Linked DNA regions of Homo sapiens. Each later gene encodes a partner of the first gene's protein in a complex. Each region holds a gene or a part of one and is shown on either strand. Other genes may lie near its edges. The genes, in order: SHH and DISP1.

Region 1 (3,288 bases):
GGCTAGTGGAGAGGCTACTCCAGACAACACGTGAGTGAGTGTGGGTGTGTTTCAATAAAACTTTATGTATGGACACTGAAATTTGAGTTTCACAGAATTGTCACATGTCAGAGAATAGCAGTCTTCTTTAGATTTTTTGTTTTTAAACATTTTAAGAATGTAAACACAGTCTCAGCTCAGGGACTGTGTGAAAACAGCCCTCGGACCAGATTTGTCCCAGAGGCCAAAATTTGCCCAGCTCTGTCCTGGAACATAAATCCCAGGGAGTGCCCGGAAACGGCAGGGCTCACGAAGGGTTTTGTGACTCGTTTGTAAGAAGTCATACGGAAGTCGCTTCCTGGGCTTCTCAGCCTCCTAGAGTGGATCACCATCCGGAAGGACGGAGCGCGTGCGCCGAGGAAGAGCTGGTTCCCTGCAGGCCCGCCCGCCTCCCTGGCAGGCACTCTGCTGCTTTCTTGCCAAATCTTGTAACTGACCGGTATTCCCTGCATGTCTGCCCCATATTTCCCACGTGGGTGCGATGCTGACAGCTCTGTCAACTCCCTCAGACAGGGGAGTCACGTGCCTGCCTCCTTGCGCCAGTAAAAATTCCCAAAGCCTGACCAAACCCACCCATTGAGAGAATGGAGTCTGCACTCTCAATGAGAATTTCCCTCACAGTCCCAGCACTACCTCGTGGAAGACGATGAGAAACACAGATGACAGTTCGGGAGCGGGGTTCTGCCACATAACAGACACTGAAGAGAGTCTCTGTAATTTCTTTAATTATTCAAACAATAGAGCACAAAGATAACAGTTTCAAGTACATTGTGATACACGTTTTGACAGGAATAGATATGCATTTAGTCATGAGGGAGGCTGGCAGCAACCACCATGCATACATTTTGCACAAACTCTTGGCTCCGTCAACCCTGAATGAGAAGTCGGCGCCTCGTCCTGGCGGGGCTGGGCTGCACCCTCTTGATGCCCTGTACCTAGTGTCTCTAAGCAGTGGTTTCCTTTCCTTGCCTGTGAAAAAGAGAATTTTAAATATAAAGCAGTGGACGCATCTTAAGAAGATGGACCAGGAGGGCTGGGGACAGCACCCAGCAGCACGGACACTCTGCCACCGGGCCTGTCCAGGAGGGAGTGCCACCCAGGAGTGAGGATTTCCCATCCGGGTGAAGCTCTGCTCCAAGGTGCCCCAGTCACCAGCAGAGTTGCACCATGGCCTCAGGCACCTTGGGGCTTGGTCAACGCCTGGCTTCTCTCTGATCGTCTGGGCTGCACGGCCACATTGCCAGGTCTGTCTACACAGCCAGAGGAGCTGCTGTGCCCGGTGCTTCTGGTTCGCTTTCGACTGACTTGAAATCAGACTGAACTGTCAAAAGAACAGAAACCATCGCACTTCCTCCGAGATTGTAAACACCAGCCTGGAACCTGCTGACCACCTAGAACACCAAAGAAAAGTCTTTTACAGAAAAAGGCTGAGGACTGCTCCTGAGGAGAGGGCTCCAGAGGCCCTGCGCCATCCACCTGGTCACACACCCTCCACGGAAGGCCACTCAAGGGCAGACCCGTAGCAGAGCAGACCCTCAGGGACTGGGCCCAACCTCGGGAGCCAGCCCCTGCCAGGTGGGGCTGAAGTCTGTTCACTCCTGTTCCCTAAGCCTGGACCACCTTCTACACAGGCTGCAGCTGCTGGGAGGCCCCAAGCTCATGCAGCGCAACTCTTCCAAGGCCCAGCCTGCTCAGACGATTCGGCCCAAAGCACAAAGCATGGCAGACACCTTCCGTAAGCCAAAGAACTGGGAGTAGTCCTCCACCTGGGACCCTGACAACCGCCAAGGGCAGAGACCCTCTTGGCCAAACCTCCAAGGCAGCATGAAGCATGGAAGGACCTTCCCCAGCCCAGCGCCCACAGCAGCATGCTCTCTCAACAGGGATCAAAGTCCACGCCCGACCGCCATGTGACACAGACAACCAGTGTAGCCTGAGGACCTCAACAGCAGCCCCGACATTCCAGCGACTGGCCCTCGCCACTGTGGGCTTGCCACTCAGATTTAAGGGGACCCTCAAGAAAAGAGGATAGGAGCTTCAGAGAAGATCAAACCGGGTCCTCTCTTCTAAGGATGCTTTCTGGAAGGGACACAACAGGACCTCAGAAAGCAGCAATGAGCCTCCTCCCTACAGATCAGAGAAGCACAAACAGGGTCAGGCCAGGGGTCTGCCCAGCAACCACACACAGGAGTCCTAAGAGAAGGTTGTTGGTGGCCATCCCCAGGCCACCTCCTCTGGGCTTACACATCAGGCTTTGCTAGTTAAGGGGTGGGGTGAGGGGGACAGCACAGTCCCCACGAATGGCACTCCCAACCTTTGGGAGTGTAGAAAGAGCTTCACACAATAAATACAAACAGAGCTGAGGTTTCTCCAGCCATGAGAAGAAACAAGTTGGTTTGTGTGCCTACTTTGGTTACCTAAGTCAGTCAGTCTGAGTTCACAGTATAAGCAACACATCTAAATAGAATATTGGGAGCTCCTGTCAGCGCTAGGTTTCCCAAACAAAGAAGCCAAAAACTAAAAGAAAAAGGGCTGCAACAGGAATTCTTAGTTATTAGATACTAAGCGTTCTGTGCATGGCACATTTTATTTCTATAAAACTATTACAAAATATTCAAAAATACATTTTAGTAAATTTACAGCGTTATTTCTCAATTTATTAATGCAAAAACATCCTTTGTTTTCTCTGTACAAACTGCAGGCTCCATCCTCGTGGGCTCGTCACTATGTGCGCTTTTAAAAAATATTATTTTCTAATAAATTCTTTGAAGTTAAAAATAACAGTTCTTCCAGTTTGTCCAAAAAAAAAAAAAAAAAAAAAAAAGAAAAGAAAAGAAAAAGAAAAGTGTGTGTGTATGTTGTGTGTGTAACAGTCTTGGCTTCCAAGAATGTGGCAAAATGGTGAATACAAAGGGAATATGAAACCATAAAGACAACAGAGGAGATGGCTGTTACATCGGAAACTAGTTAAATTAAAATAATATATTTTCATATTTTACACTATTTCAAAAATGAAATGTAATTCAGTTAAGTATTGATCTCTCAAAAAATCTAATTTACAATTCTGTGTATAAAAATATAATTTGTGGACCCCCATGAAGCACGTTTGAGTTTGCACTTGCTGAGAAGCAGGAGATGGAAGGGAGGGATGGCGGGGACAGAGGTTTGCTTTCTGACAGCCGGGACGAGGGACATGTAGAAAAATAGACTCTGAGCAGGTTGCTTGGCCTCACAAAATAATCTTTCCCC
Region 2 (6,761 bases), on another chromosome or scaffold:
GTGTGTTCTTGGCTTCATGTAAAGTCTACTAAAGCAGACATGTGGAATGCATTATTAAGGTGCTTGGCAATTGATTTTTTACATGAGGCCTCACCAAAAATGTAAGTTTTAATTTAGTTCTTGAATCCCAACTGAACTGGCTCTATTAAAATTAGAGCAATTCCTAGTATTCATGTTGAGCAATCAAAAGTACTGATTACTGCCCACGAAATACACTAGAATGAGGATACCAGGTGAATATGATGGCCCGGGAGAACGGAAACTTTAAACTTTAAATCTCCGACTCACTGCAGTGGGAGGGTAGAAAGAGAGACAGTTATTTTTCAAGCTGGGCATAAATGTAAAAAACAACTATACTTTTTGAAAATATAAAATCCAACAATCATCCAATCCAATAACCTAACGCACTCAGCAGATTTGTAAGTTTGTTGTTCCTACGGAATATAAAAATATTCTAAAATTGTTAATGTGAAACATGCTTGTTGCTGTATTTTTGGGCTTCTTTTCTAAGCTTCTGGATTTTACTTCCATGTTAAAAGAATAATTGAGGCACTGGTTCTGAATTGAATGCTGCATTTATTATAGTGTTTTTATTAACAAACTTTCACCAGAAAGTTCCGAGTGTGTTAATACAGCAGGCACATTGGCTTCCATGTTTGGCATTTGACAGTCCACAGAATTGCACTTCACTCTCACAATTCTGCCACAACTTTGTGAATTATTTGGGCAAGACCTACAACCAGCCTCCCCCATTAAATGATTAAATAGGACTTTTGGTTCATTCTGATTGAAATGTTCTGAGTTCACACTTGCATCCGTCTGTGACAAGCTCAGCTCCACTTTCCCTCCTGCCTTGTTTTCAGTCCCTCCACTGCTCTCCAGATTGCTCACGTCTCTATTTTTACAGAGTTCCCTTTGTTTATTCTCGGGGTCGCAACACGTTTTGAGTAACGATCCAGTGCTTCTGCAGACAAATGACGATGGCTCTGCCATCTTTGGAAGATGCTCTTCTATGCTCCTCTGAAGACTGTGTACATTGGTCTTGCCAATTTTTTCTTGGGCCTGAATGTGCTGCACTGGGTGGAGGAAAAAATTCCTAGGCAGAGAATTCTGCATTCCGGCTGGCTTTACTCTGCCCTGCAGGCAGGGACAGTGGTGGATGTGCGTGATGGGGTGCACAAAGCCCTCGACAGCTTGGTGTGTGGCCTTCAGAGGTGCCACGCCGTTTTGGATCTGGACAAAGCTGCTAGTGGTAGGAGAGCACTGGTGGCACAAGCAGTCCCCCATCTGCTGGCAAGAGTGTGGGCCATAGTTCAAGTGTTTGTAGGCATCTGGGCAGCTACATCTCTGATTCAGAGAGAAGAAGTGACACACGGTATGCTGTTCAAGAGGGGGCTGTAACAAGGCAGAGCCAGCGTCACTTTCAGTGCTTTTGCTGAGTTCACTGTTGTAAGCTGCATGCACAGGCATCCCTAAATTCTTTGCTTGGCTGTTGAAAAATTCAGAGCAGATGTGGGTCTCTTCATAAGTGGTCTTCTCAGGGGCAGTGCAGCTGTGGGAAGCCAGAGGTTCTAATTCATAAAACTCATGCTCCAGTTCAGATTTTGGGCCCCTGGGATCTAAATGATAAGCATTTATGGTATGTGTTTTGCTTTGTCCCTTGTCACTGGGACTTGTAGACAAGGCATGGGAAAAGGCACTGCACTGTAGTTTTTTAGGTAAAGGAATCTGACCACAGGTACCCTGTGGTCCAAGGCACCGGCACATGCACTGGAAAAAGAAGGTGGCGAAAGCCCAACTGATACACATGATGAGCATCATGAAGGTGCCCAGCTGGGTGTAAGCTAGAACTGTGGAGGGCATCATCATGGCCCCTGCCACGAAGGTGGTCAGGGCAGCCATGGCCATCGCAGAGCCCACGCGACTCAGAGAGAAGATCACTTTGCCTTCTCGGTCGGGATCTGGAGCCAAGCGGTAGGCAACCCCATAATGGACGGCAAAGTCTACAGACAAGCCGACGGCAACCGAAATGGTGACAGATTCCAACACATTGAGCTCCCAGCCCAGCAGGACAAGAGAACCAACAGTGACAAATATCGTTCCAGCAATTGAAATGATGGCATAAAGGCTTATGATGATGTTCCAAGTTGTCAGCAGCATCACGCTAAATGCAACAGCAACTGACAGCCCCATGGCAATGAGGGTGCCATCGGAGAGGCTATCCTGGAGGTCATAGAACTCCAGATTGCTGACAAACCAACCATTGCTGAGGCCTTCAGGGGCCGAACTCAGCTCACTGGATATCCACGAGTCCACCTCTTTATAAAACTGATGCATCTTTTCATAAGCCAGTGTGAAGAGGTAGGTACTCTGGAACTCTAACACCACTGCCCTGATAGTATCATTGATATCAAACCTCGGCCCTGGGGTTTTGCTATCCAAATGGTACCCTGTACTCCTTTCCAGCTCCATGATAGCTCTCTTGATGCACAGTTCAAAAATCTCTTGCTTGTAGGGGAAGCTCCAGTGGCTGCAGCATGGGTACAGGGCAGGCTCATCACAGTCCTGGTTTTCCATCCACTGTTTGAATGTCTCAATGAAGCAGCTGGTGAAGTCCTGTTCATCAGTCTGGTAAAAGAATGTTTGGTTTCTCAGTTTTTGACAGAAGTGCAAAATCCAGGCCTGGGAAGCTGGGCTGGCGATGTTAAAACTGCTATCTAATGTCAACTTCCCTTTACTCTTGGGATTTAGTGGGTTGCCATTGTCTTCTGGGGACACGCCCCAGATTACTGTGATGGGCATGTGGAGCTCCTCGCCATGGTGAACACGTTCAAACATGAAAAGCTTTTTGTATTCAGCATCATAACGCTCAAAAGGATGGGACGACCGGAACACCTGGAACTCGGATAACTCCAGTGAGGGCAGTTTCATCTTTGGATTTATACATACAATGTAGGCCCCACCTACAGTTAAGGCAAGGAACCAAAACAGCCAAAGGTAGCGAAACTTAATGACAATGCATGGCAATACTTTTTCGAAAAAAATTCGAGATGCTTCTGAAATGGCAAAGAGTACTTTGTGGCACTTCTGGCAAGCCACTGTCCAGCAGCTTTTGTTATCATATATTTGCTGCTGGGGCTTTTTGAAGCAAGTGAATATATTAAGAAGATACCGCTCATGCAGCACAACAACTGCTGGAAGCCATGTGACCATCAAAACGTAATTCACCAATATAGCTGTCCCCGCATAAACCCCAAAGCATCGGATTGCTGTAATGTTGCTAACATAGTTAGCATAAAAGGCAGCAGCAGTGGTAAAACTGGTGACGAACATGGAGAGGGCAGCGTGCTGCAAGGTGATGCTTACTGTTTCTGAGGTTTCGGCATGAGGCTTATCAAATTTTGTGTAGTTCCAAACATCACACAGGACAAAAGCATCATCTGCTCCAATTCCAACCAAAATAATGAGGGCAGTGAGGTTCATAAAAGGAAAAAATTCGAAGTGAAATACTACACGATAGAGAAAATAGGAAACAATCAAAGAACTGATTATTGCAAACATTGTCATCAGAGTGATAAACATGGACTTGGTGTAGACACACATAACTAAAAGGACAATCACAATGGCTATGGCAGGATACACAGTATCCATTAGAAGATAATCCTGAAACAAACTGTGTTTGATACCAAACTCAATCCCGGTGATGGTAGTCACGCCGTCAGAAGAGTTCCAGTTTTCAAAGTTGTCCAAGTAAATGTTCATCATGCTCTCCCCTTTCTCTGTGGGAGAGAAGAGCATGCTGTATTTTAAAGCTGGCGTGGCATAGTCAGCCGTCTTTGGGGTCATAAAGTCTTTGTCCACCAAGTAATGGAGGATCTGGTACACAGCATTGTACTTGGTACATTTGCGTGGCACATTGGTGCACTTGAGCTGGTCCTTTCTTCTGGCTGCCATGTCCCAGCAGTCTGGCCCCAGAGTGCCATTTTGGTAGTGTTTGGCACAAGTCCGAAGCAGCTTCAAGGTATGAGAAACGTCTCGCTCAACTATTTTCTGACAGGACGATCTATTGTTCAGAATGGCGATGTAGTTTCCCAGTGTCCAGCTGGGGCAGCAGGAGGCAGCAGTGGTCCTCTGGCAGAGATCACCAAACTGGGGATGAGATCTGATCTGCAGAGATAGAGACAAGCAGAAGGACTACAGTTTAAATTGGTTCACAATCGTTCACAACTGGAAAGGACTGCACTAAGGTGATCTTGAGGGACAGGGAAAGTTACAAAAGCTAAATAATTATCCACTTAAACTAGGAATCAGTTTGAATACAGGGTGAAATTTCCCCTAAATGGCGTCATGTTACAGGATGCCCTTTAGGTTACTTTATTCTGAATTAAAAACTACTGTTTGGGGATGACATGCAAGTGTGAAACAACTTCAACCAATGCTAGTTTTGTTTACAAAAGGAGATCAAATTAACACCTACTTAGTCAACAAGCCTTTTCAAAGCCACTTTAAAAAGCAATAAAATGGACAGGTTGTGAAGCTTATGTATATACATGCATAGGATTAAGAAAACCGTACACTTGATATATGAAACAAATTTGTGGTTTTGCCTAAAATTCTGGTTATCAGCATGAAATTGTTGGTGACTAAAGTACTATATTTCAGTCAACACAGTTAGAAGCAAAGATGATATTCCCTAGAGAACTGCTTTGGTCTGAATGTTTGTGCTCCTCCCAAATTCAAGTTGAAACCTAATCCCCAGTGTGTTAGTGTTAGGGGGTGTGACTTTTTGGAAGGTGACTAAATCACAAGGGAGGAGCCCTCATGAATGGGAGTAGTGCTTTTATAAGAGGTCATGAGGACACGTAGAATGCCCCATCTATGAGGAACAGGTCCTCACCAGACTGAATCTGCTAATTCCTTGATCTTGAACTTCTCAGCCTCTGGAACTATAAGAATTAAATTTTTGTTGTTTATAAATTACCCAGTCCGAGGTATTTTGTCACAGAAGCCCAAACAGATTAAGACAAAGACTGTTTGGTGAATCAAAAAGTGACCCCAGTAATATCAAAAGTGCTGATGTCAAGAAGCATAAAGGTTTGGAATAAAATTGTTTCCTGAAGTATGAGTAGAAAAGGGCAATGTTTCTGGATTAAAATATGATTGATATCTGATTTTTAAATTGGTATATACAATAAAATAAATGCCTAAGTAAGAATTTAATTATTTCTTCCATAAAGTTTATTCAAATTGGCAAAAATCCTTTTTTTGAAAACTTTCTCTTTTGGTAAATGAGGACCTGCTGCACATTAGCAAGTATGGTAATTCTGGATTTGGTGTGGACAGTATTTCATTTAAAACACTATTCCTGGAGAAGGCTTTCCATCTTATGGCTATTGTTATAAAAAATTGAAAAATTGTTCCATCACTGGTTTGCTAGATTAAAGTCTGAACCATTCCATCCTGTAAATTAGATGAGTAGCCCCTCTTCTCTGAGGTGAGAATAAGAAATATTCCTCTTCTCCTGAGCCTGACCAGAGACTTCTCTTTAGGAGAACCAGAACTAAAGATGACCTGGTCCTATCAGTTTCCCTCATCTCTATTTACCAAAGGCTGTTCCAGGGAAGAAACTCCAAAGTTCAAAGAGGAAGTGAATATTTTTTTTTTCTAGTAGGATTAAAAACACTCTTTACCTTGATTAAACTGGCTTTATCAATCATGTATTGAAATGTCTTCTCAAAGTAGAGCAGAAGCTGGCATGAATCACTGCTTCAGAACTGGGACTTACCCAAGAACCAAGTTACCTATGATCCCTGAACTCTGTTTATCAGGATACTTTCCTGGGACTAATCCTGTGGGGGTGGGGTATAGATGAAACAGGACTGGCCATGTGTTGAGACTGTGGAATTGGGTGTCCTATTTCGACAGTCCATTATACTATTTCTCTACTTTTGTATATGCTGGAGAATTTCCATAATAAAAAGTTGTTTGTTTTTCTACAGATTGAGGGTAAAGAAAAATGAACCCAAAAGGTTTTTGTTCAAATGTACTAAAATAATATTTACTTTAACAAAGCCTTCATTTTAAAGCTCATTTTTGAGGAGCAATCGTAAACATTCCATAAACTAGGATAATTCATACTTGACTGTTTCCAGATAAAAACATTCACATACGCTAACTTAGGGAAAACTGAACCACCCAACAACAGGAAACCCTGGAATGGCATCTCACTGGTTTTCATGGCAGGTTACCAGTTTTACCTTACAAAGACGTAACATACAAACCACTAGGGTCAGCTTGATGAACTGAATGAAAGGTAATGCAACCCCAATGTCTGACAGTTTTCAAATGGAAGAAAATGAACTGTATCCATTATGAAAATCCATTATCAGCTAGAAGGAAAATACCTGTAGTTGCTGAAATAACCAAATGCCAAAGATAAAGGACATGGAGTTGCCAACTAAAACTGGGAGAGAAAGCATAGAATTCTGTCCTTGAATAACCTTTTCAAATAATAGCACATTTTTAGATGTGTATAGTTGACCAAAGATTAAGCGGTTAGACATTATAAACACAGATTAAATGCTATTTTGATGGCTGCTATTAAAAACGAGTGCTAGTAAGTCACTGGGGAGCCAGTCCTCCAATTCAAAGATGGTACTGATTGATGGTCAACCTTTGGAAAACCAGTTTTCGAGAACTCATACAGGGTAAGAAATAAGGACAGAGAAAAGACATCGTGACTGGTTTTCTCTACCCTGAGT

What was found.
Region 2: the proteins of SHH (region 1) and DISP1 are in contact, whole or in part, in a cryo-EM structure (PDB 7E2I), measured with the Homo sapiens proteins. Residues at the interface, in NP_000184.1 of Homo sapiens: Pro49, Asn50, Val51, Thr55, Leu56, Gly57, Ala58, Arg68, Glu71, Phe73, Lys74, Leu76, Thr77, Pro78, Tyr80, Pro82, Arg96, Leu97, Gln100, Lys186; in NP_001356523.1 of Homo sapiens: Lys242, Thr244, Gly245, Tyr246, Lys247, Ala248, Glu260, His265, Arg299, Phe336, Gly337, Asp338, Leu339, Cys340, Gln341, Arg342, Thr343, Glu459, Arg899, His904, Asp906.

What each region holds. Positions count from the first base shown.
Region 1 is NC_000007.14:155,799,238-155,802,525, forward strand, and holds the end of SHH (sonic hedgehog protein isoform 1 preproprotein), read right to left. Parts: 3' UTR 1,009-3,288; coding exon of another isoform or gene 770-1,008; 3' UTR 743-769; downstream 1-742.
Region 2 is NC_000001.11:222,999,791-223,006,551, reverse strand, and holds the end of DISP1 (protein dispatched homolog 1), read right to left. Parts: intron 4,168-6,761; coding exon 580-4,167; 3' UTR 557-579; downstream 1-556. UniProt on the Homo sapiens protein: Functions in hedgehog (Hh) signaling. Regulates the release and extracellular accumulation of cholesterol-modified hedgehog proteins and is hence required for effective production of the Hh signal. Synergizes with SCUBE2 to cause an increase in SHH secretion.